Regions from separate parts of the Homo sapiens genome. Here all the other regions are linked to region 2. Evidence: fine-mapped QTL for protein levels in blood plasma. A gene starts in region 2. Each other region holds a variant in brackets. All regions are shown on one strand. Distances are from middle to middle.

Region 1 (8,144 bases), 29 kb after region 2:
GCAATCATGTTTTCTACTTATTGGTCAAGACGCCAGTCCCGCTGACTGCTCAGTCCCCAAGTTGTTCTATTTACCACATCCTTTTAGGAAGAGAACATCTAGGGCACCTTCTCCTCTCAGTGAGGCACTGCAGGTTCCCATAAGACCTCAGCCACGCCTGGCTAAGGAGAGGGCCCAGTTGCCCCTGCTGAAAAGGGCTCACTGCAGCTCTGGGAGAGGCTCCTTCTCTGGGCGTCTTCCTCAGATGCTGAACGATCAAGTGGGATCTGGAGCTGCCCGGAGTCCCCTCCCCTGACCTTCACCAGTCAGGAGTCTGGGAGGAACAGCTCATTCAAATATGCACCCAACGTGGATTCTCCCTCCACCCACTGACAGAAATGGCTAATGGAGCCCCAAAATCCTGCAGAGTTTAATTACCAACCTGCAAAGACAGGCTGTCAGCTCCAGTCCTAGGTAAAGACCTATGGGAAAGGGTGTTAGGTCAACCCAAAGACAGACAACAATGTCCACAGCAGGTCTGTCATCATAGCCGCGTTTTGGAAACAAGGTGAAGTCCATCAACAGCAGGCTAAATGCATAATTTGTGGCATAGACACTCAATGGAACACTCCACAGGAAGAAAAGGAGTGAACAGCTGCCCCGTGCAATAGCATGGATGAGCCCACACATGATGCCAAAGAAGCCAGACACAAGGGCATGCGCTGTATGATTTCCATAGGGTGTTGAATAGCATCTCCCCAAAACTCACATCCACCTAGAATCTCAGATTGGGACTGTACTTGGAAGTGGGGTCTTTGCAGATGTAACTAAATTAAGATGAGGCCACCCTGAATTAGGATGTGTCCTGAATCTAATGAATGGGGTTCTTATAACAAGAGGAGAGGACACAGAGAATGAGGCCATGTGATAATGGAGACAGATATTGGAGAATGATTTCACTACAAGTCAAGGTACACCCAGGACTGCCAGGAGCCACCAGGAGCTAGGAAGAGGCAGGAAAGGATCCTCCCCTAGACCCTTCAGGGGAAGCACAGCCCTGCTGACCCCTTGATTTCAGACTTCCAAACTCCAGAATTCTGAAAGCATCAGTTTCGGTTGTTTTAAGCCACATGCTTTGTGGTTATGTGTTACAGTGGCCCCAGAAAACCAAAATTTCATTGAATGAAATTCAAGAGAAGGCAAAGCTAATCCATAGAGATGGAAGCTCAAATACTGGTAGAGGATGGTCCTCATCTCGGAAGAGAAACAAGGAAGACTTCAAGGGTGTTCAAAATGCATCCTGTTCCAGGTGGTAGCTACCTAGTCATAGACACATGGAAAATTTCACTGAATTATACAGTTAAAATGTGTGCGCTTCCTTGCATGGAAGTGATACTTCAATAAAAATTTAAAAAGCAAGAAGCAGGCTGTTCCACTGGAGCTACAAACTACTTTGCTCTTTTTTCTTTCTTTCCTTGTCTTTTGTAGAAATGGGGTCTCACTATGTTGCCCAGGGTGGTCTCAAACTCCTGGGTTCAAGGGACTCGCCCGCCTCAGCCTCCCAGTCAGTGCTGGGATTATAGGCATGAGCCACTGTCCCCAGCCACGCTTTGTTCATTCTTGAAGGAAATCTCTATGATGTTCAACTTGTTCTTGTCACTCAAAATGACCATCCCCTGCCCTCTATAACTACCAGTAGAAACAAGATCTCTAGCAGCACTTTTCCAAGATTGGGTTTTCCCCAGAAGCACAGCCTGAGACAAGGATTTGAATGCAAGTGCTTTGCATGGGAGCACATGGGGAAGGGAGAAGGGAGATGGGAAGTGTGGGGAGGAGCACTGTGCCACCCACCCTGGGGACCCACTGAGACACCACAGGACACACCTCAGAATCTGCCCACCAAGTAGCAAGGGAGCTGGAGCCTTTATTGACCAACAGCCCTGCCTCACAGGGTAAGGGTGGCTCCAAGCACACCAGAGAAAGAACTCAGGCAGAGAGAGGCAGGAGCCTCTGCACTGGCCTCCAGCCTGGGCTGAGGCCATATGGGCCGGGACCTTCGTCTCTAGGTACAGGCCAGGGAAAGGCAAGACCTGGCTGGCCTTGAGCTCTGCCCTCTTGTTTGGGGGATCGAAGAACCAGGGATGCAGTATACTGAGAATTTCAAGTTCACGAACTTTCCTCCCCTTTCTTAGCACACAAGGTCCCTCTCCATATGGACACAGGGAAACCTCACCCCCCAAGGCACAACTGCCAACACCTTTCCATGAGAGCAAAGTGACTTCAGCAAAAACATCAGGTGAGGATGAAGATTGTCCAGAGGAAGCCGGCCCCAGGCTCTCCAGGGCTCCATTGTTCTCTGCATGTCTCAGAGCTGTCCAGGGCATGGTGCGGGCCAGCTGAAGGAAGCTTTGGCTCCGGGTTTTGTCCTCTCTTCCTGCTGGTGGGAAGAATGGGAGCTGGCAGGAAAGGAAACTGACTGAACAAAGAGAAGGAGGAAAATCAGAGGACCCCT[G/A]GAGAGATGTTACAGCTGGCCTGAGAGCTCATTGTGTTGGAGTGGGGGAAGAAAGCCATTCCCGGGAATATGCCTAAAAAATGCAAGAGACTCCCATGCCCGTCACCATCAAACCAGGCACTAGCCCGAGAATTTGACTTCCCAGATCTCAAAGGGGACTTAAAACTTTGGGTCCAAAAGACAAGATTTTTTTTCCATTTGCTTTAAAACTCTTGTTGAAAAGCAGATGTTAAGTCTGGGGAATCATGTGTTAACCAAGAAAGAGGTTTCTTAAGTGCATCAGCCACCATCCATAGCTGGGAGCAAAGCTAAGCTTGCAAGTTGGGGCCAGGAATATGTAGACAAGGACTCCGAAAGGTTTATGCCATGAGCCTACACACGAGAGGGACTCAGGGGCCTTGAGCATCCAGGTATCCAAGCTCTGGTGCCACAGTACTGGGGGCCATTGCTCAGAACTGAAAGCCTTGCAACGGCAAACTGCAACACCATTCAGATACCTGAGGCACTCCTCTGGGGCATGGCCATGACAGAGACTGTGCCAGGCCCCAGAACACTTTGCTTCTCTTACCAGCTGTGTGTGACTTTGAGAAAGTCACTTATCCTCGTGGTCTCTCTGTTTCCTGATCTGTAAGGTAGAGATCTTGACCTGCTTCATGGAGTTGGTATGAGAATGCCAAGTGTTTAATGCAGTGCTTAGAACATAGTGAGTGCTCCACAATATGAGTTACTGCACTGATGCAGTATGTGTGCTCACAGTCAAATGCCACATGCCCAACCCACCATCTACCTTCCTTTCTCTCCATTAGATTTCCAGGGATGGCTTTTTGGGGGAAAGGAATTGGTAACTGACATAGTTTTCCATCACGCTCCAAGCCAGAAATCTTGAGATCCTATGATACCCACTCAAAAATGCATTATTAATCCAGTTCTCAGCAACTTCTACTCACTACCATCATCTTTCATCTGGATGTCTACGACAGCCTCCTAACTGATGTTCCTGCTTCCATTCACAGGAACAGAAATAATCTATTAAAAGTCTAAAATCTGACTCACCCTCTCTCCTTAAAACTTTTCAAAAACTTCCCATTGTACCTAAATAGAATCCAAACTCTTGCACTGGCTTCAAAAGCCCTGTGCCTTTCTACAAGGTCACTAGACCCCTATTTCCCTGACAAACTCTGTTTCAGCCATGCAGTTTCTCTGTCAGTTCCTGAAACACAACAAGTTCCTTCTAGCCTCAGGACCTTTGTCTGTTTCCACTCCCTTCCCTGCATTACGTGACAAGCTCCTTCTCAAACTTCAGATCTCAGCCTAAATGTCAGCTCCTCACCAGGCTTCTCCAGGCCATTCTCTCTAAAGTAGGCTCCTTCTGCTACTGCATCATTATCTGTTTCCAGTTCGCCATTCTCTTCTTGTATCAGTCAGCTATCGCTGTGTAACAAGCCACCTCAAAACTCCATGGTTAAAAACAACAGGCATTCATTATCACTCACAACTGCAGGTTGGCTGGGGTTCAGCTGGGCACCTGTGCTCCTCATGGAAGGGCTGTGGGTCAGGGGAGGCCGTTCTGTTCCACATGTCTCTCAACCTCCTGCTGGGATGAGACTGGGCCCGTTTTTCTCATGGTAATAACAGAGGAACAATAGAGCAAGCAGAAAGATGTGAACTCTCTCAAGGCCTAGGCTCTCTCAAGGCCTAGGCTCAAAACAGACACAACATCCTTTCTACCACATTTTATGGGCCAAAGCATATCCTTGTGATCAAGCCCAAACTCAAAGAGTGGGGAAATGCCCTCCATCCATAGTGAGGCCAGGCAGGCCTGTGTCCACAGGGAGGATGGATAAAAAAATGTGGGCAGTCATTCAACTGCCACGATTTGTGATTCATGATGAATATTTTTGTTTCTCCACTCTCCACTAGAATGAGCAAGCAGGAACCTGGTATCCACAGCACCTAGAACAGTACCTGACATGTGACAGATGCTCAACAAGTCCCTTATTATACTTTTGTTTTGTTGTGTTTTTTTTAGAGACAGAGTCTCACTCTTTTACTCAGGCTGGAGTGCACTGCCGCAAACACGGCTTACTGAAACCTTGAACTTCTGGGCTCAAGCAATCCTCCTACCTCCACCTCTCAAACTGCTGGCATTACAGGCATGAGCCAACATGGTTGGGGCCCTTTATTATACATTGAATGAACTCCTAGACTGGAAGCCCATGTGTTACCTCTAGATGACAATTGTCCTATAAAACCATCATGACAGCAATTGGCTTTTCAGATATGGCTTTTTAATTTTTTTATTATTATTATTTTTTAGCTCTGTTGCCCAAGCTGGAGTGCAGTGGTGTGATCTCGGCTCACTGCAACATCTGCCTCCTGAGCTCAAGTGATTCCCCTGCCTCAGCCTCCCAAGTAGCTGGGATTACAGGCGCCCACCACCACACACAGCTGATTTTTGTATTTTTAGTAGAGATGGGGTTTCACCATGTTGGCCAGGCTGGTCTCAAATTTCTGAACTTAGGTGATCCGCCCACTTCGGCCTCCCAAAGCACTGGGATTACAGGCATGAACCACTGCACCTGGACTCAGATATGGCTTTTGTTGAATATGGACTCAGATATAGACAAACTTTTGCTTAACGATGGAGTCTTTTATTAATCAATGGGCAACTTCACACCTACTTGTTAGCAATTGCTTGGACATGGTCCTAAGGACTACAACAGCCACTTCCCAATCCAGGGCAGAAGAAAAAGCCCATGAACATGGCCCTGACTGGGACAAGGACCATGTGAGGCATTCTCTACTATGGACACAACAGAACTGATGAAATTCAGAGCAGGACCCAGCTCCAAATTCCCCTTGTCCAAAACCTGCTTATTCTTTAAGGGGGTGGGGGCTGCAGAAGGTAACCAGTGGACAAGGTGCAAAGGTTGTTGGGGTCCCTCTTCATACCTCCAAGAAGAATGGGGCAGACAGGAAAGCAGCTGGGAGCTGCCTTTGGAGTGAAGAGTCCTGGCTTGGCCAATGAGCACCAGTGTAACTTTGGACAAGGCTGTTGACCTCTGAGGTCCTTACCAACCCAAAGGGCAGTAGAGTAAATCAAAGGAGAGGAGCAAAAGGAAGCCCACACCTGTGCTGAGGCTCGCTGGTCCTCATCCAGGTTCAGAAGCAGTGTTCTCCAAACTTTTCAGGTTGGACACCCACTCAGTGAGCATTCTCAATATGTGCTGATGCTTATGTATAACATTACATACATGTACTTTTAAATATCATTCATTTTAATGGTTCATCTTCTCACCCTCTTGCACTTGTGTAACAGGACTATCTTCATCTTTTTTTTTTTTTTTTTTTTTTTTTGCACTCACGCTTAAGCCTCTTAGGATTTTTGTGACAGTTTTAGTCTAAGTAAAACTGAAAAAAATACTGAAAAAAATAATCATTTCTGCCACTTGCATGGTCCCCACCAAGGCACTTCTCTAAATTATTTTAGATGCATTTAGATCAGGGGCAATGGCTCACACCTGAAATCCCAGCACTTTGGGACACTGAGGCAGGAGGATCACCTGATCCCAGGAGTTCAAGGCTGAGCCTAGGAGTTCAAGGCTGAGCCCAGGAGTTCAAGGCTGAGCCTAGGAGTCCAAGGCTGCAGTAAACTATGATCACTCCACTGCACTCCATCTTGAGTGACAGAGAGAGACCATGTCTCTCAAAATAAAAATAAAAATAAAAATACACGCATTTTTTAAATTTTCATTTTTCCATAAGTTATTGGGGTATTGGGGTACAGGTGGTGTTTGGTTACACGAGGAAGTTTTTTTTTTTGTTTTTTTTTTTTTGAGACGGAGTCTCACTGTGTCACCCAGGCTGGAGTGCAGTGGTGCGATCTCGGCTCACTGCAACCTCCGCCTCCCGGGTTCATGCCATTCTCCTGCCTCAGCCTCCTGAGTAGCTGGGACTACAGGTGCCTGCCACCACGCCCAGCTAATTTTTGTATCTTTAGTAGAGATGGGGTTTCACCATGTTGGTCAGGTTGGTCTCGAACCCTGACCTCATGATCCACCCTCCTTGATTTCCCAAAGTGCTGGGATTACAGGTGTGAGCCACCACACCCGGCCATTACATGATTAAGTTTTTTAGTGGTGATTTGTGAGTGGTGCAACCATCACGTGAGCAGTATACACTGCACCATATTTGTAGCCTTTTATCCCTCACCCACCTCCCACTCTTCCACCCAAGTCCTCAAAGTCCATTATATTATTCTTTTGCCTTTTCGTCCTCACAGCTTAGCTCCCACATATCAATGAGAACATACGATGTTTGATTTTCCATTCCTGAGTTACATCACTTAGAATAATAGTCTCCAATCTCATCCAGGTCACTGCAAATGCTGTTAATTCATTCCTTCTTATGGCTGTGTAGTATTCCATCATATATATGTACTACGGTTTCTTTATCCACTCATTGATTAATAGGCATTTGGGTTGGTTCCACGATTTTGCAATTGTGAATTGTGCTGCTTTAAAAATACGTGTACAAGTATCTGTTTCGAAGAATGACTTCTTTTCCTCTGGGTAGATACCCAGTAGTGGGATTGCTGGATCAAATGGTAGTTCTACTTTTAGCTCTTTAAGGAATCTCCACACTGTTTTCCATAGTGGCTGTACTAGTTTACATTCCCACCAGCAGTGTAGAAGTGTTTCCTGATCGCTGCATTCACACCAACACTACTGTTTTTTTGATTTTTTTATTATGGCCATTCTTGCAGGAGTAAGGTGGTATTGCTCTGTGGTTTTTATTTGCATTTCCCTGATCATTAGTGATATTGAGCATTTTTTTACATGTTTGCTGGCCAGTTGTATATCTTCTTTTGAGAATTGTCTATTCATGTCCTTGGCCATGTTTTTTTCTTACTGATTTGTTTGAGTTCATTGTAGATTCTGGATATTAGTCCTTTGTCAGATGTATAGATTGTTTTTTCCCACTCTGTGGGTTGTCTGTTTACTCTGCTGACTGTTCCTTTTGCTGTGCAAACGCTCTTTAGTTTAGTTAGGTCCCAGCTATTTATCTCTGTTTTTATTGCATTTGCTTTTGGGTTCTTGGTCATGAAATACTTGCCTAAGCCAGTGTCTAGAAGGGTTTTTCCAATGTTATCTTCTAGAATTTTTATAGTTTCAGATCTTAGGTTTAAGTCCTTAATCCATCTTGAGTTGATTTTTGTATAAAGTGAGAGATAGGGATCCAGTTTCATTCTCCTACAAATGGCTTGCCAATTATCCCAACACCATTTGTTGAAAAGGGTGTCCTTTCCCCACTGCATGTTTTTGTTTGCTTTGTCGACAACCAGTTGGTGTAAGTATTTGGGTTTATTTCTGGGTTCTTTATTCTATTCTATTGGTCTATGTGCCTATTTTTATGCCAGTACCACGCTGTTTTGGTGACTATGGCCTTAGAGTATAGTTTGAAATCAGGTAGTGTGATGCCTCCAGATTTGTTCTTTTTGCTTAGTCTTACTTTGGCTATGTGTGCTCTTTTTTGGTTCCATATGAATTTTAGAATTGTTTTTTCTAATTCTGTGAAGAATGATGGTGCTATTTGATGCCGATTGAGTTGAATTTGTAGATTACTTCTGGTAGTATGGTCATTTTCACAATAT
Region 2 (8,144 bases):
GGGAGGCCTTTCTCCATTTGGACATTTTCCTGTGTATTTAGGGAGAGTGACAAACTGCAGACCAACTTATCAGGTTAATTATGCTTTTAAAAACATCGCAGACGAGGAGCAAAGTGATGGGGAGGCTAAATGAGGAACTCGGTGGTGGCTGAGTCTGGCATTCTTTGCCCTTCTTTGGGTCTGCAGGTGGGAGTTTCTGCCCTTTCCTGGGCCTCTCCTTTCTGGACAACCCGAGAGACAGATCACCTTAAAACACAGCCTTCATCCTGTACCTGCCCTAAGCCTTCAGTGGCTCCCCATCTTCTACCTTCTCACCTACAAACATCCTGTCCCACATACACTGGGTGATTCCCGCACGAGAGGAAGAACTGCTTCAGTGGTCCCGGCTGAGCCAGAAGGACCACTGCTCTTCCTCATCTCCCACCCTTCCTCACCTCCCTCCCATCCTCCCCATACTCCACCCCAATCCCTGCCCTGAGTCAATTGCTCACAGCCAAGTTCCAAACACTAACTGCACTCTGACCGGGAAGGGCAGAGAACTGCAGGGGAAATGATCCATGGATTAGCACAGCATTTGCTTCTCCAAGCTGTGGCCACCCTCTGGGCTCATTTTCTGCTTCTAAACAACTCTATACCACAGAATCTCAACTACCACCATGACGGGTCTTCAACATGCTGCCCTTGATTTAAAAGACAACCGCAACAACTGTAAAACTGTCTCCCTTATCCCTGTAAAATTTGCTCTTGCTGCTTTTGTGTATTCCAACCAACTGCGATGTGGACCGTCACCGATCAACAAGGGATAAAGGGAATCTAGATGCATCTAGATTCCAGGCACTGTGCTAGGTGCCAGGCAAACACATGTGAATGAAACACAGTCCTTCAACTTCTATGAGCTCAGCAGAATGTGTGAATGGGAGGCTCCGGTGACTACAGTAATAGGCTCTGTGCCAAGTGGCAAAGGAACCACATGGAGACTCGCGGCTGGGTTTGGGAGCAGAAGAGTGGGCAAACCGTAAAGGAGGGTGAATTTAAGATTTTAAAAAAGCCATAGTCCAAATTCTAAAATAGTAAAAGCTGAAAAATAGGCATATTCTATGACCCAGCAAATCTACTCCTGAGTATATATTCAACAGAAATATGGGCACCAAGAAGAACATGCAGGAATATTCATGACAACACTATTCATAAGATCCCAAATGAGAAACCGCCCAAATGTCCATCAACAGGGAAATGGATAAGTAGGTTGTGGAATATTCTTACAATGGAATGAATGATCTATAACTACACACAATGTGGGTGAACCTCAAATACGTAATTCGAGCAAAACACAGACACAGAAGATTATATTCTATATAATTCTATGTATATGAAATACAAAACCAGGCAAAACTAATCTATGGCATGGGACTCAGAAAAGTGGTCAGCATAGGGGAGGGAATTGTGGCGTGAAGAGGCCATGAGGAGCTTGGAGTGTGCTGTCATGCTCAGTTTCCTAATCTAGGTGCAGGTTACAATGGTGTATTTGGTTTGTAAAAATACATAATGCTGGGCCGGGTGTGGTGGCTCATGCCTGTAATCCCAGCACTTTGGGAGGCCGAGGCGGGTGGATCACGAGATCAGGAGATCCAGACCATCCTGGCTAACACGGTGAAACCCCATCTCTACTAAAAATACAAAAAATTGGCCGAGTGTGGTAGCCCATGCCTGTGGTCTCAGCTACTCGGGAGGCTGAGGCAGGAGAATCGCTTGAACCTGGAAGCCGGGGGTTGCAGTGAGCCGAGATGGCGCCACCGCACTCCAGCCTGGGTGACAGAGTGAGACTCCATCTAAAAAAAAAAAAAAACCATAATGCTGGACATTGCAAATATGTGCACCTTTGTGTGGATCTCAGACTTGAATAAAAAGAAAAAATTAAGTATGTCTATTGTCTTAGTCCATTCAGGTTGCTATAATAAAATATCATAAACTGGGTGGCTTATAAACACCACACATTTATTTCTCACTGTTCTGGAGGCTGGCAAGTCCAAGATCAAGGTGCCAGCAGATTGGGTGTCTGGTGAGAACCCACTTTGTGGTTCATAGATGGCCATCTTTCACTGTGTGCCCACATGGCAGAAGGGACAAGGGAGTACTCTCAGGCCTCTATTATAAGGGCACTAATCCCAATCATAAGGGCTTCACCCATATGACCTAATCACCTCCCAAAGATCCACCTCCATTACCATTACCTCGGGGGTGAGAATTTCAACATATGAGTTGTTGAGGGACACAAGCATTCAGACTGTAACAGCTGTTTAGGTAGCTACACAGCTAAATAAGTATTATTTTCCAAATCACATTTCAGCGATTTCTCTACCATTAGGCCATGGGCCAGCAATGGAACCTGGCTTATCCTTCTTGTGTTCTTCTTTTCCTGGCACAAATATGGTTGGTAATCTTGCCAAACAGTAATCTCCCTGGTATAGTTAATTTGGCCTGCTAGGTTATATCCAAACGATCACTGTATTCACCTATAAATGCTCTCAAACTGGTCCAAGGTCTAATCAAAGCTGGAAATTGATCAAATAATGACCCATTCATGCATTCTAGAATTCAGCCATTCCCTGTTGCGTTTTTAGAAACTGGCATAATTTTCTATTATTTACGCGATCTAGAGAACTATGTCATAGACCCCTGCATCATAGAACACCCAGATCTGTGGTCTCCATCTCATTCTTCCTGCTTTCTCAAAGATGATCTACACACAGTTCTATTTCCCAGACTATATAATATAATCCACTTTATGTAACATAGTGTAATTCACTTGGCCCTGGTCTCTCAGTTCTTTTGAAGAAATGAATGTTCTCACACTAATTCCTTGGTCTGTTTGTCGATCTTTACAGGCAGGGAGGGAGGATGCGAGGCAGCATTGGGTCGGCTCCACATTCTCCACATCTGCTTATTGTTTTCTTGCCTTGTTTGCAGCTTCCAGAGCTCCTCCCTGCTTCTGTAGCAATTTCAGTCTTCCCCATTCCTCTGTGCCTTTGTAAACAGCCTTTTGTTCACTAACAAGAGGAATCTGCTGCCACGTCAGCTCTAAACCAACCTCCCACCATTCTCTGGGTAAAGTCCTGCTTAGAAAGGGAATAGGAAGAAGAGGGGTGGAGGGGGTTGGAGATGATTGTGTCTAGTGGGAACAGGCAGGGGGATAGTGCACAGAGTTCACAATGGGACAACGAGCCTGCCGAGGCTGCACTGCCGGCCTGGCTGGGTGACCTTGAGCCTATCTGGGCCTGTGAGCTCACCATGCAAAGGAGCTGGACCACAGAATTCTGAGTCCTTTCTAGCTCTAAACACTGTGGCCCTAAGTATCTATATGTGAAACAAAATTGTCCTGACATTTGTCTCTGGGTACTGAACTATTAGGAGATTTTGATTTTTTCATCTCCATTTTGCAAACAGTCTGTACTAAGATTACACTACTGTGTTTCTGTTTTGTGTGTATTCAGAAGCACAAAAAGTCTGTGGTTCTAGAAAGGAAATAGAAAAGTTCTTAAAAAAAAAAAAGTGGGGAAGTGAAACAAATGTTAAAGTCAGAGGAGAAAGAAAGGCCCAACCGGAGGCCCCAAATCCACCCAGAGCCCAGAAGCCCGGGTTTCCCACCGACCGGCTGCGGTCTTTGTCAGCTCTCTGGCGCTATCTGCTGTCCTTCTCGATAACAACCGTTTAATTTGGTTTGCAAAATTGCTCTGACGCAAATCCACCGTGAACACTGACGGGGTCACATTCAGCATAAAAATCGCATTCTGTTTACAGGAAAATCTGGCCCCATACTTGCTCCCATATTCACTTTTGACTTTGCCTTGCAGTACTAACTGTAACAGGGACACCTGAGCAAGTCCCTTCTGTATAAGGCCCAAAATGGTCACCCAATACCAATGAGTCTCTTGCTTTGGAAAGCCCAGGAATGCACCTCCAGCCCCTTCTGCGCAGCGCTCGGACACCATGTAGAGGAGAAGGCACTCTGCAGAACTCGCCCTCAGCCCGCACCACCTGTCCAGGGGACTGGCTGCGTGTCAATGTGTCTCTGCTCCCGGGGTTCCCGCAGATCTTTAACTTATTGGCCTTTGGGCTAATTCAGTCCTTCAAGCATTCCTCGCCCAACATGCCAGGAAGTCTTCTCACGTGTCTTCCACCCCATACCTACCAGTTCTGTTTTCCCACTACCCGATGAAAGTGTAACCGCCCCCCGGCGCCCCCCCCCCCCACCACCACACACACACCCTGTTGGTCCCATCCTCAGGGCGTGGTGGTCCAGGTGAACGCTTGCCCTCTTTTTGAGCTGAACCTCCCCACAGAGGCTGTCAGCAAAGACTGCTTTGCTGTCCAAGGCCGGCCTTTAGGTACAGGACACTATGCATGTCCAGCGAGGCTTGTTGAAGCCACATCTGTCATAGATATTGATGGGAAAAGCATTTTCCTTCTAACACATCTCATTCCAATTCTAAAAGGCACCTCTGAAGCCTTGCTGAACTTCATCAAGATTTTCACGTGGTTTCCTTAGTAAAGTGTGATGAGAAGGTCCATCCTTCTCAGGATGAAGGAGTGGTCCAGGAAGCCCTGATTGGTCTGCCGGGGAGGGAAGGGCTGCCTTATTTGGAGACCTGCAGGAATGCCACCTCCCCCGGCAGCTCCTATATAGCTGGGCGGACCTGGCTGCCAAGAGGGTGTGCTGGGGGACTGTGCAGCTCGAGGCTCCAGAGGCACACTCCAGAGAGAGCCAAGGTACGTGGGGGGCCACTTCTGTGGTCAGGACTGCTGGTTTCTTATCAAGGCTCGATCCCAGATTGAAAATCATGCAATGATTTCTTTACTCCCACACCTGGGGATGGGTCCCAAGTTCAGGGTAGACTTGCGAGGATACCCAGTCATCACTGGGCTTGCCTTTCTCTAAGTTGGTGCTATAATAAAATGCTACTTTAGGGTTTGTGGGTTGGGATTTTGTTTTGCCTTTAAGCTTCTGCCTATGAAAACTAATCTCTTTCTCAAGAATGCTGTGCTTTTATTTTTTTTATTTGACTCACCTGAAATGATCTATTATGCCATTAATCTTATTTAAGATTTCTCCTTAAAAAAGGAATGATGTGGAGTATGGCCCTATTTAGGAGACTAATGAATATTTGCTTCATGCTTGGATCTCTTTGGAGAAAGTCAGTCTGAGTTCACTGTGCTCAGGAGGCAGAGAGAGTGGGGTGAGGGGGTCCAGATGCTCATAGCCACCCTGGGACAAAGACGAGGCGATGTCTACAAGCAAGGAAAGGTCAGTGAGGCCTCTTTGCAGGCTTCTAGAGATGACTGGATGTGCTTCTAGAGATCACTTCAGCTGTGTTTTGCCTTTTTTTTTTAATATAAGGAGCAATGTGGCATCAGAGTTGAACATTTTATCAGAGGAACATTAGCCACTTTTAGGGAAGCTGCAGCAGGGTGGTGGAGGGTGTGTGAGGGGCGAAACAAGCTCCCTGTCAGCCTCCTCCAGCTCTGGGGCCCCATGGCCTCACAGTAAGTCTTTGCCTAGGAGACAGCTTAGGCAAGCTCCGGTATGGGAACTCCTTCCATTTCCCTAATCCACACAGGCAAAGACCCAGGTGCTAGAATGCCCTGACAGTCGGCCTTGGGAAGTGGATTTCCTTGATGGCTATTGTAGATTCAGGAGCCGAATGTGACAGGCAACCTTAAGGTGTGGGGTGAGGGGCTTTTCCATGACATCAGTGGCAGCCCTTCGGATGTCCCAGGGCCACCTTGACCCGGGACCCTCCTGGTGTTCCCCCAGGCCCTCCTGTCTTCCCTTTCATCTCGTTTTCTCCGAAATTCCTCAAGGGCCCTGCCCTTTGCCCTTTGCCCAGCTCAGGGGGCATCATACCCAGTGAGTGAAAAGCACAGTGTGTGAGCACTGTCTTCTCCTGAAACCCAGATGGGCAGTGGGGCATGGCTAGTGGACACATGCAGTGCAGCATTAGACAGAGCCCAGTGCAGGTCTGCCACCTCCCCGCTGTGCAGCCTTGGGCAAATTACTTAACTTCTCTGAATCCCAGGACAACATTTATAACATGGGGATAATAATGTACCTACTCTATGTGAGAATTAAGTTAGGCAATGTCAGAGAAGAGCTTAACACGGTGGCAGGCATGAAGAAAGTATGCAATAAAAAGCCAGTAGGATAAGCAGATGGTCACACTGTCCCCCAGGGGTGAGATTGGAAAGGATGCCTGGAGCACACTTGACCCCTGGACATAGGGGAGGCAGGGGTCCCTTTGCTACGTTTCCATCTTTCCCTTCCTTCCTCCTCCTCTCTCTCTCATTACTGCAAAGCCCTTTAGGATCAGCAGCCAGTGAATTCCTCAGAATGGATGGCAGAATGCCCCCAAGACAGTGCCAGCTCAGAGCAATAAAGAACAAAGAGGGGAGATTGAAAGTACAATCTAAAGTCGGCACAGTGGCTCGTGCCTGTAATCTCAGCACTTTGGGAGGCTGAGGTGGGAGGATCACTTGAGCCTGGGCAACATAGTGAGACCCCGTTTCTACAACATGTATTTAAAAATTAGCTGGGTGTGGTAGTGTGTGCCTGTAGTCCCAGCTACTCCGGAGGCTGAGGCAAGAGGATTGCTTGAGCCCAGGAGTTCAGGGCTGCAATGAGCTATGATCATGCCACTGCACTCCAGCCTGGGCAACAGAGTGAGATCCTGTCTCTAAAATATGTGTGTGTGTGTGTGTGTGTGTGTGTGTGTGTGTGTATGTGTGTGTGTCTGTACATATACGTATATATATATGTGTGTATATATACATATATGTGTGTATATATGTATATATGTGTGTGTATATACGTGTATATATACATATATATGTGTATATATATACGTGTATACACACACACACACACACACACATATAGTCCATGCCCACCAGCATTTGATTCCAACTCTTCTATTGTATTTTCCTCCCAGGGATTTCTTGATTTGAAAGACTTGGGAGTATCAAAGAAAACCTACATGTATTAAGTCACCACTCCTTTATTTTCCCATGCGTATTCAAAGCCACTATAATTGCCCTTTGCCATTCTTACCTGTCTCGGAAACCGGGACCAGAGCCCTGAGTGAATGTAATCCTAGCAATAGCAAAGGAGCTCGGTGTTTGAGTTAACCCTGCACAACCCAAACATGGGGAAACAATTATGCTTTTGAGACCACATAAATAGCACAAGGATGCGATTCCTTCCTTAAAATCTCCTGCACTTGGGAGGGGGCAGGGGAGCCCAGGCAGGCCTGGTGGGGAGCTGACCCACCGCCGTTTCTCTGGCAGGTTCTGACGCGATGAGGAAGCACCTGAGCTGGTGGTGGCTGGCCACTGTCTGCATGCTGCTCTTCAGCCACCTCTCTGCGGTCCAGACGAGGGGCATCAAGCACAGAATCAAGTGGAACCGGAAGGCCCTGCCCAGCACTGCCCAGATCACTGAGGCCCAGGTGGCTGAGAACCGCCCGGGAGCCTTCATCAAGCAAGGCCGCAAGCTCGACATTGACTTCGGAGCCGAGGGCAACAGGTACTACGAGGCCAACTACTGGCAGTTCCCCGATGGCATCCACTACAACGGCTGCTCTGAGGCTAATGTGACCAAGGAGGCATTTGTCACCGGCTGCATCAATGCCACCCAGGCGGCGAACCAGGGGGAGTTCCAGAAGCCAGACAACAAGCTCCACCAGCAGGTGCTCTGGCGGCTGGTCCAGGAGCTCTGCTCCCTCAAGCATTGCGAGTTTTGGTTGGAGAGGGGCGCAGGACTTCGGGTCACCATGCACCAGCCAGTGCTCCTCTGCCTTCTGGCTTTGATCTGGCTCACGGTGAAATAAGCTTGCCAGGAGGCTGGCAGTACAGAGTGCAGCAGCGAGCAAATCCTGGCAAGTGACCCAGCTCTTCTCCCCCAAACCCACGCGTGTTCTGAAGGTGCCCAGGAGCGGCGATGCACTCGCACTGCAAATGCCGCTCTCACGTATGCGCCCTGGTATGTGCCTGCGTTCTGATAGATGGGGGACTGTGGCTTCTCCGTCACTCCATTCTCAGCCCCTAGCAGAGCGTCTGGCACACTAGATTAGTAGTAAATGCTTGATGAGAAG
Region 3 (8,144 bases), 110 kb before region 2:
GTCCTCCGGCAAGTTGGAATCTAAGCCTGAGGCTGGATGAGGATTTCTAGAGATTTCACAAGGGCTTATCACCATGTGAGCACACACAATGGGTTCCTAGGCGAAAGTGGGGGAAACTGTTCACACTCATACATGCATGCATACACACACACATGCATGTGCACACACACATGCACACACACACGTACACACACACACACAAGTCTGTATTCCTGGCCCTCCAACAAAGGTGCTGTACAAGGGAGTGATGGAGGAGCTAGGAAGGTTGACCAAACTATCACTTACCGAGCTCATCATGCAGGTTTGTTCTTCTAAGAAAGGATTCCCTATCACCATATTGCAGGCTCTAAGGTGAAGAAACACATTCAAAATCATGCCTGGAACCATCACAGTCTAGCCTGGTGAGGAGGTTGCAGGCAGGGCCCCTCCTGACATGGACAGGGCACAGGGCGAGATGATCAGTGAGCAGTTACCACATATCTAGATAATTACAATGATAAACACACCTAACAGACTATTAAATAAAACATGTCTATCCTCCTCCATTAACAAATACACCCTCATGAAGCCCTGCAAGGCTGCTGGACTCTCAGAATTCCACACCAGGACACGGCAGCCCGGGGAGAAGCCCCCAGCTGCCCACTTCCCTCATCCAACCTCTGAGGGGCACCGCACAAAAGATACCCCAATTTGCACATCCCAGCTCTATCCACACCCTCCACAAGAACGCTGACCCTTGGGCCCCCTCGGGCCGAGGGCTGTGCACAAGGATAGTGCTGGCCCCTTGGGAGGACAGGCCCTGGGAGGCAGCCATGGCAGGTCCTGGAAAGCATGCTTAAGGCTTTGGGGCTGGGAATTCTAGCATCCCAGGCACCCAGAGCAGGGGCAGAAGGAAGAGGGCAAGCTCTGGCCAGATGTGCTCTGGGCTGATGGGCCCCTCGCACCCTGGGGGAAACGCCAGTTAGGAACCTCAAAGTCCGACACCTGGGGCAGGTGCAGGTCTCCTGACTGCAAGAACTACCGGGACTACTGTTGTTCTGCAGGGCTTACAAAGCGCATCCCTGTTCAAAGAAAGTTTGAAGAATGAAGTCAGTGGTGGGGTCCCCTATAGCTGGGGAAATAGAGAAGAAGAAAGGACCTTGGCAGGAAGTAGCCCAGCCATCCCTAGCAGCTGAGAAATTCCCTCCACCAGTTGGCACCCTCCTCCCCCAACACTTCTCAGGCCACAACAGAGGGAAGAAAGGCTGGTCTCAAAGCACACCTCCCTGGGCCTGTGTGGAAGGCTGGCAGCCTCTGGCCCTGGCCCATTTCCTCCTCCCATTAACATAAGGGGCTCTTGGCTTCCGCTGGAGGTCTTCTTACTTGCCTTGGTTGCTCTCCCTCAGCAACCTCTCCGCACTCAAGGCTGTGACTCTTACCCACCCCACATCTGGATTCCTCTTCCAAGCCATGTCTACTAGATCCTCCGAGGCCTGCCTCTCACTCCCCGTGCAGACAACCTCGCTCCCTTCCCTCAGCAGCAGCTCCTGCACCTGCCCTGGCCCTGCTAGGGAGCCTCAAAACCTTTATAGATGGAGGTAGTGGTTGCATAACCTTGTGGATGTACTAAGCACCATGGGATTGTACACCTTAAAATGGTTAGTTTTATGTTATGTGAATTTCACCTCAATCAAAAAATGAAATTAGGCTGGGTGTGGTGGCTCATGCCTGTAATCCCAGCACTTCGGGAGGCTGAGGTGGGTGGGTCACTGAGGTCAGGAGTTCGAGACCAGCCTGACCAATATGGTGAAACCTTGTCTCTACTAAAAATACAAAAATTAGCCAGGCATGGTGGTGTGTACTTGTAGTCCCAGCTACTCGGGAGGCTGAGACAGGAGAATTGCTTGAACCGGGGAGATGGAGGTTGCAGTGAGCTGAGATCATGCCACTGTACTCCAGCCTGGGCAACAGAGCAAGACTTGGTCTAAGAAAGAAAAAACAGAAAGAAAGAAAAAACAGAAAGAAAGAGAAAGGAAGGAAGAAAGGAAGGAAGGAAGGAAGGAAGGAAGGAGAAGAAAGAAAGAAAAAGAAAGAAAGAAAGGAAGGAAGGAAGGAAAGAAAAAGAAAGAAAGAAAGAGAAAGAAAGAAAGAAAGAAAGAAAGAAAGAAAGAAAGAAAGAAAGAAAGAAAGAAAGAAAGAAAGGAAGAAAGAAAGAAAGAAAGAAAATAAAAATGTAAAACATCTTCTGAGGCCTCCCTTGGCCACACTGAGCCAATGATGTCTCAGGAATCCCTGCACCCACTGCTCCTCCAGCCAGTCCTTCTCATTTGTGTTAGGCCCTCCCTGAGGATGTGGATGTTTTGACCCTGTCACTGGGCTTGGGGGACAGGGGCCATGGCTGGGAATGGACCCTGCTTATGGATACCCAAAGACAGCAAGCTCTTCTGACAGCAGGCATTCATGCCAGAGAAGGTGGGTCCTTTGCAAAACGCACCCTGAGATTTCCCCCAGAAATCTCCCCAGCACTAAGGGTCCTAGCTGGACACTCATCCCTCCTTCAGGGACCACAGATCTGCCTCTAAACCTTCATGCGTGGACTCTGCACCGCTCACTCTAAAAGAATAGGGCTTGTGTAGTCTGGAGCCTTCTATCTTATCCTGGGTAACCTCCCTCTGACTTTCTCAACATCCTCAGCCCCTGAAGATACAGCAGCTAGGACAGAGTCAGTCTCGAGGCCTGGAGGCGAGAACCCAATGTCTTTGTTATCGGGCCCTCTCGTTCTTCCAGGTAAACATCCCTGAGCGAGGGAGGTCTGAGGACAGGGCGCTCCTTGGGCACCCCTTTAAAAAGCAACATACATTATGATTACTTCACCCTGCAAGGCCAAATTCCCCAGGGCCACCACCAGTGTTCATTGTTGCCCTGTTGCTCTTTCTGTCCACACCAGTGGTACGAGGAGACCCTATCTCAACTCTCACTCCCTGAGATAAATGTGAAATGGACAACTTATCTGTGTCTCCCTCCCTCGCTTGCTGCCCCTTCTGGGAACAGGACCCCACTGAGGACAATCGATTCACTTGGCTGGTTGGCAAATTGCAAGAACCCCTCTGCCTATGCCACTGATGCACAATGTCTAGGGCTGGCACAATGCAAACTCCTCCAAGAGCCAGTTCTGTCCCTCCAGGCACACAGATACTATCCATCACAGAGCTGGCGGCCTCAAGAATGGCCATGGGGAGCCACTGAATGTTTTGAGCAGGGGTGTGACATGAGCCAGTTGGGAGTAGTGGTTATGTGCAGGCATTTTGGTGTTGGGCTGCCTGGATTCAGATACCAGAACTGCCACCTATTAGCTGTGGAATCTAGGACAAGTGACCATGCCTCTCTGAGCCTCAGTTTCCCACCTGCAAAATGGGGATAACAACAGTACCTACCTCCTAGGGTTGTTGTGAGGACTGAGTGGGTAAGGCCCTTGCAATAGGGCCTGCCATTTCATGTTAGGTAAGAGTTAGCTTTTATGAATTCAATCTGAGCTCCAGCTCATGGAAAGTTACTTGACATCGCTATGTGAGTTAGGAAAACAGGCTCTAAAACCAAAGGCCCTTGCAGTGATGGAAATAAGCGGTACCCACGCCTGACATAGCCAAATGGAGGTGGGATGGAGGGGAAGAAAGACATTTGAGCCACTGAGAGGCGGAAGGGAAGGACCAGTGAGGTGTGTGAACTGGGTGGGGGTGGGGAGGGAAAGGTGACCCAAGGGAAAGAGAGGCCTTGAGTCTAGGTGAGCAGGAGGAGAGTGATGCTGGCTAGGAAAGCAGGGTCTTGGGGCAAGGCAGGAGAGAGGAGGTGAGGGGCTATCTTCGGACCTACAAGGCTCACGAAGGAAGAGGTGATCATCAGAAAGCTGTAAATATGGGGATGCGTTTGGAGCTCAAGCAATAAATGGAGGCTGAAGGTTGAGCTTTGAGGGGAGGTCATTCAGGCAGCAGTGCAAAGCTCCAAGATCCATGAGATTTCCAAAGGGAAGAGGACTGCAAGTGGAGAGAAGAGGGGAGGGGAGTAGAGGGAGGAAAAGAGGAGAAGAAACTGGACAGGAGGAGTGGGGAGAGGAAAGGAGGCCAAACAGCCTCCAGGGTGGTAATGAACACCACAGCTATGGTGTCATACCTGAGTTTGAGCCCCGCTCTGTCACTAACTAGCTGTGTGACCTTGGGTAGATTGCTGAATCTCTCTGAGCCTTAATTTCTTAATCTGTAAATTGGGCATAATGATAGAAACTCCCATACAGGGCAATGATGAGAATTAAATAAGATTGTGTGTGTAAAGCCCTGATTTCAATGCCTGGCACCAGGGCAGAGCCCAGGGAATGGCAGCTAGGGTCATTAGGATTCTTATGAAATCCAAGTTAAATGAACAGAAGAAGGAAGAGGGGTTAGAGAAAAGGCAACAGAGTGGAGCTGCTTTTAAAGAGCCAGGAGAGCATGGTGGAGTGGGAGGAAAGGCAGGGAGATGTTTAGGAAAGCAGGAGAGGCCAGCAGGTGCCTGGCACCAATCAGTACAGAGGCTAGAACTTAGTGCTTTGGGTTTGGCAACTAACATGTCTCTCGTAACTTTTGAAAAAGCAGTGTGATTTTCAAAAATAAAGAGTAAGTGGGGCCAGGCGTGGTGGCTCATGCCTGTAATCCCAGCACTTTGGGAGGCCGAGGTGGGTGGATTACTTGAG[G/T]TCAGGAGTTTAGGAGTTCGAGACCAGCCTGGCCAACAGGGTGAAACCCCGTCTCTTTAAAAATACAAAAATTAGCCGATCGTGGTGGCGGGTGCCTGTAGTCCCAGCTACTCGGAGGCCGAGGCAGGAAAATCACTTGAACCCGGGAGGCGGAGGTTGCAGTGAGCCAAGATCACGCCACTGTACTCCAGCCTGGGTGACAGAGCGAGACTCCGGCTAACAAAAATAAATAAATAAATAAATAAATAAATAAATAAATAAATAAATAAATAATAAGTGGGAAAGACCATTGGAAGGTACGTTAGGGTGTCTTCTGGGGAAGGGCTGGGAGTAGGCAAGTTTGAATGCCAGGCCAGAGAGTCTGGATTTTATATTTAGACAATTATGTAACTTTAGAGGTATTTGAGTGGGTGTCAGCCTGGTGCTAGTTTGGGATGATGTATCTGGGTGGGGCAGAGGGAGAGAAGGACCCACGCATCACACCTGCCCAGGTCAAAATTAGAATGTGATTGACAAGGACCTAAAATTCCCATGTTGAGATTTTAACCACTCGATTTCTCCAGGGATTCAGCGATTCAGGTTGACTGAAGTTTAACAGCAAAGCAAGCACTAGGCAGAACAGTATCATGCAAAGCCCCTAACTCTGGCATGGGGAGGGATGGGGGACAGATAAAGGAGAGAGGTTGGGAGGGAGATATTGCAGGATGGAGCCAGGCCCAGGCAAGGTGGAAGTTGCAGCTGCTCAGATTTTTTACGATTGCTCATACCGTTCACCCGCAGCTCCCAAATCCGGAAGACTCTTCAGGGACATATAAATAGTAACTGTTATTTGAGAACCCGCAGAGCCTCACCTGTTCTAGCAACTGCCGGAGGCTTATTTCACTTAGCATAATGTCCTCTAGCCACAGTGCAACCTGTAAATATATACAGCTATTATTTGTCAATTAAAAACCACCACCACCACCACCACTGGGGGGCACTTGCTGAGTGTTTTATCTCAGAAGGTGACCTCGCTCTCCCCAGGTCTTGTCATGATACCGTAACTAATCACACAACGACAATGAGAGCCAAAAAGGATGATATAGAGGACACACACATGACCAGTCCACTTCCTTAAAAGTACCTGGGGTCTTGTGATCCGGCCACCTGGACAGAGAACACAACAGTCAGGGGCTTGTTGAGAAACAATTGTGGTTTTGCTTAATTATGACCGAGGAACTGAAGCCAGTCTTCTATTTATGATTGGCAAGGTGGTCTCAATGCATCTGTCCTGCTTAAGAAAGTAACCCCCGCTTTCCAAATCTTTCCAACTTCTTCAAATTCAAAAGTCTGAGGGAGGCTCAGACTGCGTGGGGGTGGGGGTGTTGTTCAAGATGTGGCTTGTGGGATTAATTTTTGGCAGGAAGATCACAGTGTTGAATACAATGAAACTCTGTCCTGAGAACAGGCCTCTCAGGGAGCCGTTGCTGCTCTCGGACTGGCAGGGCCTGAGGAATTCATTACAGGGGATGAAAGATCTACTCAGAGCCAAGATTTATTCCTGCCTGGAGACCCTGGAGTCACTGCATTTCCAAAAAAAAAGGGCTCATTTCATTAGACTCCAAGAAAGTGGATTTTGGGCTTCTAAGAGAAGGAACTATCGTGTTCTTTTAAAATTTTTGTTTGGATCATTGCAGACTAACTAGATGTTTTCCATTTGAAACGACCCCCTTTGTATGTCTCTGCCACAGGACCACAGGGTAACAGATGTGATTTCCGTGAAATGCACCTACCATGGGTCCTGGAACACAGTAGGTGCTCATTAAATACTTTCTTCCATCTGCCCCAGGTGGTCCTAAAATTTTCTGAGTCAGATCCAAGTTCTGTGTAAATGCTTACATCAAAGTGGGGTCTGTGGTCTTGAATTCCTCCCTCCAAGTTAGAACCCAAAAAGTGCCCTGATTCTGTAGCAACTTTAAGAATCTCTGTGATTTATTTGAGTGAATCTTTTAACTGAAATAGTAATAAATTGTGACAGGCCTTCACCTGTTAGCAGAGAGTGACCCTGAAATGCCACCTAGCTTTCAGGAGAAACAGTTTCTAAAGTGAGGATTCAAAGCAAAAATACTTGTGGAAAAAAATGTAACGGATGAAATACATGTACATTCTCCTGTTTTTGATGGTGGTTAGGGGACACATTTTTCCTGCCCTACTTCTTCATTTGAAGTTACTTTCCAAAGTAACTTTCATAACTTAATTACATCTTCAGTGACCCTGTTTCCAAATAAGGTCACATTTGGAGGTACTACAGTTAGGACCTCATGGTTTCTTTGTGGAAGCCAAAATCAGTCCATGTAAATCAGCTTTAATAAATGAGATAGCTGCCTTATGCCACAACCCCACACTGAGCAATGTCATTTGGGTAAATATTTCATCCCAACCATTTGTAATGTAAGGGTTGCTGTTTGCCCAGCCAACAGAAGGGAGTATCTGACCTTAGTCCATCATTGTTACGGGGAGATGCTTGTTGCCATGTGGCCCACTCAAGGGCAGGCAGTTGAAACCAAGCATCCAGGTGCTTCCAGACCAGTCTCTACACCTCCTAGACTTTGCTCTCAGTTCTCTGTCCCATTATGGGAATGTGTGCCTAGAAAACGGGTTGTCCTGACTTTGAGTTTGTGATGCATCTTGTATGTCTGTTTGTCTCTCCCATGTTTAAGCATACCAGGTCACTAGTTCCCAATTGTACTAATTTCCTAAAGCTACTGTAACAAAGTACCACAAACTATTTTGTTGCTTAAAACAACATAGAGTTACTCCCTTACAGCTCTGGAGGCTAGAAGTCTGAAATCAAGGTGCCGGCAGGGTTGATCTTTCTCAGGACTCTGGGAGAATTTGCTCCACACTTCTGGTAACAACCAGCAATCCTTGGAGTTCCTTGGCTTACAGATACACCATTCCAATTTCGGCCTTGCAGGGGCCTAGGGAAAATGTCCCCTTTGCCCTCTGAAGGTTCACTGAAAATCAACTGACAGAAGGCAGATTCATTAGGAGAAAAGACAAACAAACTTATTTGGTCATAGTTTGTATCACCCAGGAGCCTTCAAAATGAAGACCCAAAGATATAGGGAAACTGGCCATTTTTATGCTTAGGTTCAACAAACTACGGGCAGCTATGTAGAAATATAAGGGGACAAAGAGGATAAGATCTAATGTTAATAGGCTGAGTGGGGAAACCCATGAAGGCTGTCTGTTAGATTCCTCTTGGCCTCTCTGTAGAGCGTTCCTTCTGTATTAGTCTGTTCTCACACTACTAATAAAGACATACCCAAGACTGTGTATTTTTGTAAAGGAAAGAGGTTTAATTGACTCAAAGTTCAGCAGGGCTGGGGAGGCCTCAGGAAACTTACAATCATTGTGGAAGAGGAAGCAAACATGTCCTTCTTCATGTGGCAGCAGCAAG
Region 4 (8,144 bases), 20 kb after region 2:
GAAGGCTGAGGCAGGAGGATTGCTTGAGCCCAGGAATTTGAGGCTGCAGTGAACTATGATTGCACCACTGCAGTCCACACTGGGTTACAGAGCAGAAGAAAATAAGTGAAGTCTAACATCGAGATTGTAGGCCGGGCGTGGTGGCTCACATCTGTAATCCCAGCACTTTGGGAGGCCAAGGTTGGTGGATCACTTGAGGGCAGGAGTTCGAGACAAGCCTGTCCAACATGGTGAAACCCCATAAAAATACAAAAATACAAAAAATTAGCTGGGTGTAGTGGCACACACCTGTAATTTCAGCTACTCCGGAGGCTGAGGCAGGAGAATCACTTGAATCTGGGAGGTGGAGGTTGCAGTGAGCCGAGATCACACCACTGCACTCCAGCCTGGGCAACAGAGCAAGTCTCAGTCTCAATTAAATAAATAAATAAATAAGTAAATAAATAAATAAATAAATAATAAAAATAAAATGAAGATTGTAAATAAACTTGATCAGGTCCAAAGAAAATAGAGTCTTCCTTCATCTTCGCTTATACTTAGATAGCAGGCCGTCTCTATGTGAGTTACTCATTGCCTGAGGCTGGATTCACCAAGAACTAGATGCCAAGTCAAGGATTCATGTACAAGTGGTTTATTCGGGAGGTGATCCCTGCAAATGCTGCAAGTGGGGAATGGAAAAAGGGAAGGGAAGGTAGCCCAAAAAGGCTGTGTTAGCATGTTTATTGCATGGGCAACCGGAGCTTCACTCTGCTTGGGAGGCCCCTGGATGCCAGAGTAGAACATATTCCTCAGGGTTATGCTGCCTGCAGGGCGAGGGAGCTGGGGAATTTATACACCAAGATCTGTCCATCATTGGTTAAGGACAGCTCCCAAAGGCTATACTTCCCTAATAGTTCCAACCTGCTGAGTGCATAGGCTGAGTGGGCTTCCGAGCATGCTGGTCCCATCTCCTAATGATGAGAGGTGGAGGCACAGGAGAAGGTAAACAAATGGCAAAGACACTTAAATACATGAGAAAATGAGTCCAACCTGAACTTTGACTTTTCTGGGTGGCCCACTCATCCCACTAACTACCATAACTTCATTTCGTCTGCTTTTTGCAAAGAACAGACAATTCCAAACAGCCAAGCCTAACAAGTAGCTCATCTTAGCTTGTGGATTCAGAGCACTGGTGGCCTCTCCACCTCCAATTGACACCAGAAAACATATAAATACCTCTAAACATGCCTTGGGTATTTGTTTTTCTAATTGCAAATATTATACCATAACTTAGTTTGAAGGCTTTGTAAAGAATATGCCAGAAACATCTAATATTAGCCCTAAAAACTAGGGCAATCTTTTTTTTAACAGAAGAGTGTTCATATAAACATCAAAAGATGTGATGAGAGTAGTTTCAACTTCTAATCATAGAAATTATAGGGCTATTTCATGAAAGAGGTGCTTTATCAGCTCATCTTGAGTGAATGTTAAAGATGAAGATATGGCTAGTATCTCCAGAGTCTACTGTCTCAGAGAGGTAGCCCAAAGTTGTAAGACTGAGTGCCTTGAGGTAGGGAACAGGAAGCAACAGGGTCTCCAGGTTCACTGAGGAGTACTGACCTGCAATGCGATTCCTACATCAGCAAAGGTCTTCCTTCCATCGTTAGAGGACTCCTGGATTTGCTATGCCTATCCTGATGGCTTCCTACATGAGACCATCCATTCACACTTGGCCCTTACCCAGGCCTGAAATTCTCCCCAGTTGCACTCCACCCACTTATGTCTATCACTTAGCTCAAAGCCAGTAAAGCTCATCTCTGAACTAGCAAAGATTCCCTTTATCCCATCAAAATGTCCTTAACATCTATCTTGAGGTCATGCAGCATGATCTTACTTTGCTGGCATTCTTTCCTTCTTCTGTGGATTCCCAAGCAGAGTACAGATGTACAGATTCCTTGGGGGATAAGAGCTGGAATTTCAGCTTCTTTTTTTTTTTTTTTTTTTTGAGACGGAGTCTCGTCTGTTGCCAGGCTGGAGTGCGGTGGTGCAATCTCTGCTCACTGCAACCTCCGACTCCCTGGTTCAAGCTATTCTCCTGCCTCAGCCTCCCAGGCAGCTGAATTACAGGCACACACCACCACGCCCAGCTAATTTTTGTATTTTTAGTAGAGACAGGGTTTCACCATGTTGGCCAGGACGGTCTCGATCTCCTGACCTCATGATTTACCTGCCTTGGCCTCCCAAAGTGCTGGGATTACAGGCATGAGCCACCGCACCCGGCCTCACCTTCTTTTATATCCCACACAGCACCCAGCACAGAGCACAAAGCTAAGCGCATCGATCCAGCGACTGACTGACTGAATAAATGAATACATGCTATCTTGCTTGTAGAAGCCCAGATTCCTCCTTCTTACGACTCCCACACCCACTTAGGAGATTCTATTATGTCTTAAAAGAAGTTACATCTCCATTAGTGTCAAAGCAACATTATATAAGTGGCTCAACATGATCAGGCATGAATTTCTTTGTTTTCCCACTCACCTGAAAGCCCAAAAACAATCCAGGTGGTGGTAAACACTTCTGATCCTTCAAAGAAAACGGAAGAAAGCGATCCCTACCGTCTATTTTGAATCTACCGTTTTTTGTTTTTGAGTGTCTTTTAAATCTATTCAAAATCCTTTAAGGGCATTTCACCATGCATGGGAGAAGGTCATGGATCCTCAACAAATTGCAAGAGGCCTTTCACAGGCTAGACTCTGCCTTGTTCTCCAAGCTCACCTTCCATAATCCTGATGTGCTCCATATTGCCAGACTCTTTCAAGTCCTTCCCCGCCCTGCGGAGAATCCCTACTCACACCTCAGGACCAGCTCAGACATGGTCTCCAGGAGACCTTTTCTAAGATCCTATGTGAGGTAACTAGCCCCCTTGGCACCTTGTGACATAATTATTCACTTCCATGTACATGTCCCGTAGTGAACTATGAGCACCTCCAGACCTTACCCTGCGTTTGGTCGCCTTGCTCTCCTCTCTGCAGCTGGCACCCAATCTTTCCAGGCTGTCTCTAGGGACTCGAGCCCTTGGGATGGGGTCCTCAATGCTTTTCCACCTGCCTGGCTTCTAAATTCCACTAAGATCCTGTCCCATTCTCTTGGAAACACTAGAACTTACTCTGACATGCCCTATGGAAGTTATTTCTCCACTGCTGTTCAAACCCACTCCCAGACCTGGCCTTCCCTGAGGAGAGCGTCTCAGCCAAATCCAACTGCCTCTAGCTCAAGTTTCCTTGCGGGGGGCCCGCTGGCCTCATCCTGTTAGGTCGTCTTAGAGCCACAGGAGAATCAATGTTCCAGTGTCAGCAGGAAGAATCAATGTTCCAGTGTCAGCCAGCAGGGGGCAGTGTGAAAATACACACACCAGGCCCTTTTTTCAAAGGGTCTCGGCTTCCCTGAGGGTGTCTATCTGTGCCTCTATGAAGCATGGCTTGGGTCATTCCTCCAGTCCCATGGCCAGGTGGATCCTTCGTTTACCTTTCATTTCTATTAAATGAGAACATTCTCAATTCACTAACTGGATTGTTGGAAAGGCAGCAAGCTCTGCTAGATAGTTCTAAATATTTGCATCAAATATGGACCAGAAATTGTGAATCTGTCTTTCAACGCCCTCGGATCTGAGTCAGCAAGGCTGCCACGTGCAAAAGTAGGAACGTTAAATACTTGAAGCTGGGAGAGAATAAGTGGGTTTCTAATCCTCTCTGGTGCATTCAGTTCTAGAAAGTGGTTCTTTGTATTCTACTGGAACATTTCTATGTATGGTTTTTTTGTTGTTTGTTTGTTTGTTTTTTGAGACAGAGTCTCCCTCTGTTGCTCAGGCTGGAGCACAGTGGCACAATTTCAGCTCACCACAACCTCTGTCTCCCGGGTTCAAGGAATTCTCCTGCCTGAGCCTCCCGAGTAGCTGAGATTACAGGCACGTGCCACCACGCCCAGCTAATTTTTGTATTTTTGGTAGAGGCAGGGTTTCACTATGTTGGCCAGGCTGGTGTATGTATGTTTTAAACATGCTTTAAAACAAAATTTCTTTTTAGAGATGGGATCTTGCTATGTTGCCCAGGCTGGAGTGCAGTGGCTATTCACAGGTGTGATCATGGCGCACTGAAGCCTAGAACTACTAGGCTCAAGCAATCCTCCCACCCTAGCCTCCCACGTAATTGAGACTACAGGTATACACCACCATGCCCGGCCTTAAACATGCTTTTAAATGTGTCATAAATCACATTTCTCTGATGAATAAAAAGAATTATCTAATGTTGAGAAAGAGTCAGTGTTTAATCATTTACCTCACAGTGCAGATTTCTTAATAAATTCTGTTATTGAATCTACAGAATTTAACATTATGTTATTTTTGGCCCTGAAGGCATAACTTCAAGCCATTCTGGATACTGAATGTGTTGCTGACATACACATTAGCAAATCACTCAGAAGCATATACACTTTATTGCATTATCAGTAACATGAAGAAATATTTCTATATCATGAGAAAGAGCACTTTCTTCTTGATATGTGTGTAATCCCTTGGTCTTGGGAAGCTAAGGCACAGCTTACAGAGGGATTTTGTATACCCCACTCATTACGTAGCTTAAATCAGGCTGGGTAAACATGTAAACCAAATGCAAATCATCAATCTACATATGTTTAAGAAATAATATAGACATACTGCTGAAGCATGCCTCCCAGGGAGTTCTGGACTTTAAACAGCATCTTATAAATCACCAGCAAGAACAATCAATTAATATTTTGGCTGAGGGTCTTTACCAGACTCCCAAATACCACTGGAGTTAAGCACTGAACCAACACAGGCCAGCTGCAAATAAGATTCATTGCTATGGTTTGGATATTTGGCCTCCCCTCCAAAGACAATATCATGTTGAAATTTCATCCCCAATGTCAGAGGTAGGGCCCACTGGGAGGTTTGGGTCATGGGAGTATATCTCTCATGAATGGCTTGCTGCCATCCTCATGGGAGTGAGTTCTCACTCTTAGTTCCCTCAAGAGCTAGTTGTTGAAGAGTGTAGAACCTCCTCCTCCCTCCTCTTGCCTCCTCTCTCCCCATGTGATCTGCCCACAGTGGTTCACCTTTCCCTTCCACCATGAGTAGAAGCAGCCGGAGGCCCTCATCAGAAGCAGGTATTGGTCCTATGCTTTTTGTACAGTCTGCAGAACCATGAACCAAGTAAACCTATTTTCTTTATACATTACCAAGCCTTAAGTATTCTTTTATAACAACACAAGCAGGCTAAGATAACCCCATCTATGGTCAGTCACCAAGGCCTCTTCTCTCATATGAGTTTTGTACCTTACTCTATTTAATAAAGTTTGTTCTCATGGGGATATGCATTAACAATTCTGATACGTGCATACTGAAATCGAAAATTAATTAAACAAATGGCGGATGGTAGAAGCCAGGTTGCTCACTGTTGGAATGCAAGTTTACAGATAAGCCAGGGGAGGAGGCTAGAATGATCCACTTGGTAACAGAGCGGAGTTGGAGGCATCAGTATGAACTCATGTCTAGCTTAATACAGGGGCAGAAGATTCCATATAGAAATATGTATAGATATGTGATATTCACAGGTTAGTATACACATGAATATTTCCTTGCTCTGTCATCTGAGAAGGACTAAAAGAAACAGCACCCCAGTAGCAAAAAGCATACCTAGCACCCAGACCTTGGTTTCTAATAACA[C/A]TCTCCAGTGAAAGGTACCAGGGCTCCTTGGAGAAATGGCCAATTCTATGCCTCTGACAGAAATATGCAAGAGGAGCCTGGAGTATTTTGTAGTGCCAGAAAATAAGGAGGCACTCAAAAACAATCAAAAAACAAATGCATATTAATGGAGCTACATCAAAGAAACACAGGAGCCAACTGAGAGTGCTCCCAACGGCCAAAGCTGGAACAATTTGAGCAACAAAATAAAGCAGTGCTGGATTATCATTCAAAGTATAAAATAAATACCCCTGAGTCCTCACTATTGCAAATAAATGATTGAATAAATTAATAAATGGGGGAGGAGAGACAAGTCCCTTGGACTGATAAATTTCAAATAATTTATGCAGATACTCTGCCTCAAGGGGGTGAGGCATAACTCCTGACTCATTAAATGTGGAGTAAGCATAGTGACTTCCTTCCTAAGAGGACAGTATGGAATGGGGGAGAAGAGTAACCTTAGAGTGGAGGACCCTGACACATACGACCTCAGCCAGGTGATGAAGGTCAACATCAGTGGTGATCAATCATGTTGATCATATGTACTTCTGATGTGATGTGAGGAAAGCAGCACTTTACTTCTGTGGACTTCCTCTCAAAAACTCATAACCCCAGTCAAGTCAAGAGAAAAACATTAGACAAATTTAATAAATAGGCATTTGGGAAAATATCTGAGCGGTACTTCTCAAAACTATCAAGGTCACCAAAAACAAGGAAAGTCTAAGAAACTGTCACAGCTAGAGGAGCCCAAGGAGACACGATGATCATGTATCAGTGCTGGTTCATTCCTTCTAACAAATGTGCCCTACTCGTGCAAGATGTTAACAAAGGGAACATTGGCCATGGGTATATGGGAACACCCTGTACTATCTTCTCAATTTTTCTGTAAGTTTGAAACAGTTCTAAACAAAAAAAAGTCTTTTAAAAATACAATCAAGGCCAGGTGCAGTGACTCAGGCCTGTAATCCCAACACTGTGGGAGGACCACTTGAGCCCAAGGAGTTTTAGGCCAGCCTGGGCAATGGGGGGAGACCCTGTCTCTACAAAAAATTTTAAAAATTAATCAGGTATTGTGGTGTATATCTGTGGTCCCAACTACTCAGGAGGCTGAGGTGGGAGGATTGCTGGGGTCCAGGAGGCCAAGGCTGCAGTGAGCCATGATCGTACCACTGCACTCCAGCCTGGGTAACAGAGCAAGACCCTGTCTCAAAAACAAAAACAAAGAATCTATAAATAAATGAAAAGATTAATATCCACAAAAGGACAAATATTGTATGATTCCATTTATATGAGGTAGCTCGAATAGGCAAATTCTTAAAGACAGTAAATAGAATAGAAGTTACAAGGGGCTGGGAGGGGGAGGAATTAGAGCTTATTGTTTAATGCACTGCACTCCAGCCTGAGCCAAAAAGTGAGACCCTATGTGAAAAAAATAAATAAATACATAAAAATACAATCAACAGAAGAAAAGAAAGTATTTACAATATATAACAGATAACAGATTCCTATATAGACTGTATAAAAAACTTCCAGAATCAATGAGGAAGAGAAATAACCTGATTTTAAAAATTGGCAAAGGATGTGAAAAGGCAATACATGGAAGAAATACAAGTGTCCAAAAAACATAAGAAAAAATACTTAATCTCACTAATAATTGGAGAAATGCACATTCCATTAAAATACCAGTAAGACTGATTTCTCTTCTCACTTTAAAGGTCTGGTGATATCCAATGTTAGCAAGGGTGTGAAGAAACAATGAAAATGTATCCATACAATACTTGTGTAATTAAGTATAAATTGACAAGGGTGAATTTTTAAGGAAACTAAGAGAAAAAGAAAGGCGTGATCCCTTTGCCCCATTGTAAAGGAAACTATGACTCAAAAGTAACGGGTGGCTATCTAAATGCCAATAAGCACATAAGAAGGTGCCTAATCTCACTCATCATCAGTTAAATGCAAATTAAAACTATACCCAGATGCTACTATGTACCAGGATGACTGACACCAACATTGATGAGGATGTAGCACAACTACAGCTCCCATGCACTATTGGTGGGATTGGCACAGCTCACTTTGGAAAACAACTGGGCAGTATCTATTCAAACTAAACATGCTCATTTTATGGCCCACCAATTCTACTTCTCAGTAAATACTCAACAGACGTGAGAGCTTATGGCTCCCAAATGATACATGCAAAAATGTTCATATCCACCTTATTCACAATAGCTACAAGTAACTCAAATGTCCATGGATAGAAGAGTAGCTAAATGGTGGCATAGCCATACAATGGACTACTACACAGCAACCAAAAAGAAGAGACTATTACCACACACGGCATGAGTGAATCTCATGGGTTGATTGCTAAGCAAAAATGTCATGCAAAAAATGATATATTGTACAGCTC

Direction of the effects. Positions count from the first base shown, and alleles are read on the strand shown. Strength reflects both the effect of a copy and how common the allele is.
In carriers of allele A in region 1, the plasma level of the protein whose gene starts at base 4,707 in region 2 tends to be lower than with G alone (weak association).
With allele T in place of G in region 3, the plasma level of the protein whose gene starts at base 4,707 in region 2 is higher (weak association).
For the plasma level of the protein whose gene starts at base 4,707 in region 2, C is the high allele of the variant in region 4 and A is the other (moderate association).

The links. PIP is the chance, under the fine-mapping model, that this variant and not a neighbour inherited with it causes the effect. The UK Biobank Pharma Proteomics Project read protein levels with antibody pairs (Olink). The fine-mapping took linkage between variants from a reference panel, not from the people measured, so its PIPs are less certain.
Region 1: its variant is fine-mapped to the plasma level of the PRND protein (UK Biobank, PIP 0.94).
Region 3: its variant is fine-mapped to the plasma level of the PRND protein (UK Biobank, PIP 0.91).
Region 4: its variant is fine-mapped to the plasma level of the PRND protein (UK Biobank, PIP 0.97).

What each region holds. Positions count from the first base shown.
Region 1 is chr20:4,746,609-4,754,752 of GRCh38, forward strand. No RefSeq gene overlaps it. Among named protein-coding and RNA genes, the nearest start is that of PRNT, 10 kb to the left of the region's middle. RefSeq lists a silencer at 2,255-2,549. The variant G/A (reference allele first, on the strand shown) is at 2,492.
Region 2 is chr20:4,717,203-4,725,346 of GRCh38, forward strand. It overlaps PRND (prion like protein doppel), which reads left to right and starts at 4,707. Exons shown (of 2, transcript NM_012409.4): 1 at 4,707-4,767; 2 at 7,339-8,144. The coding sequence starts at 7,350. The coding sequence ends at 7,880. RefSeq lists an enhancer at 3,410-3,629.
Region 3 is chr20:4,608,328-4,616,471 of GRCh38, forward strand. No RefSeq gene overlaps it. Among named protein-coding and RNA genes, the nearest start is that of PRNP, 74 kb to the right of the region's middle. The variant G/T (reference allele first, on the strand shown) is at 4,703.
Region 4 is chr20:4,737,620-4,745,763 of GRCh38, forward strand. PRNT (prion locus lncRNA, testis expressed) reads right to left here and starts at 3,049. Exons shown (of 2, transcript NR_024269.1): 1 at 2,981-3,049. The variant C/A (reference allele first, on the strand shown) is at 5,723.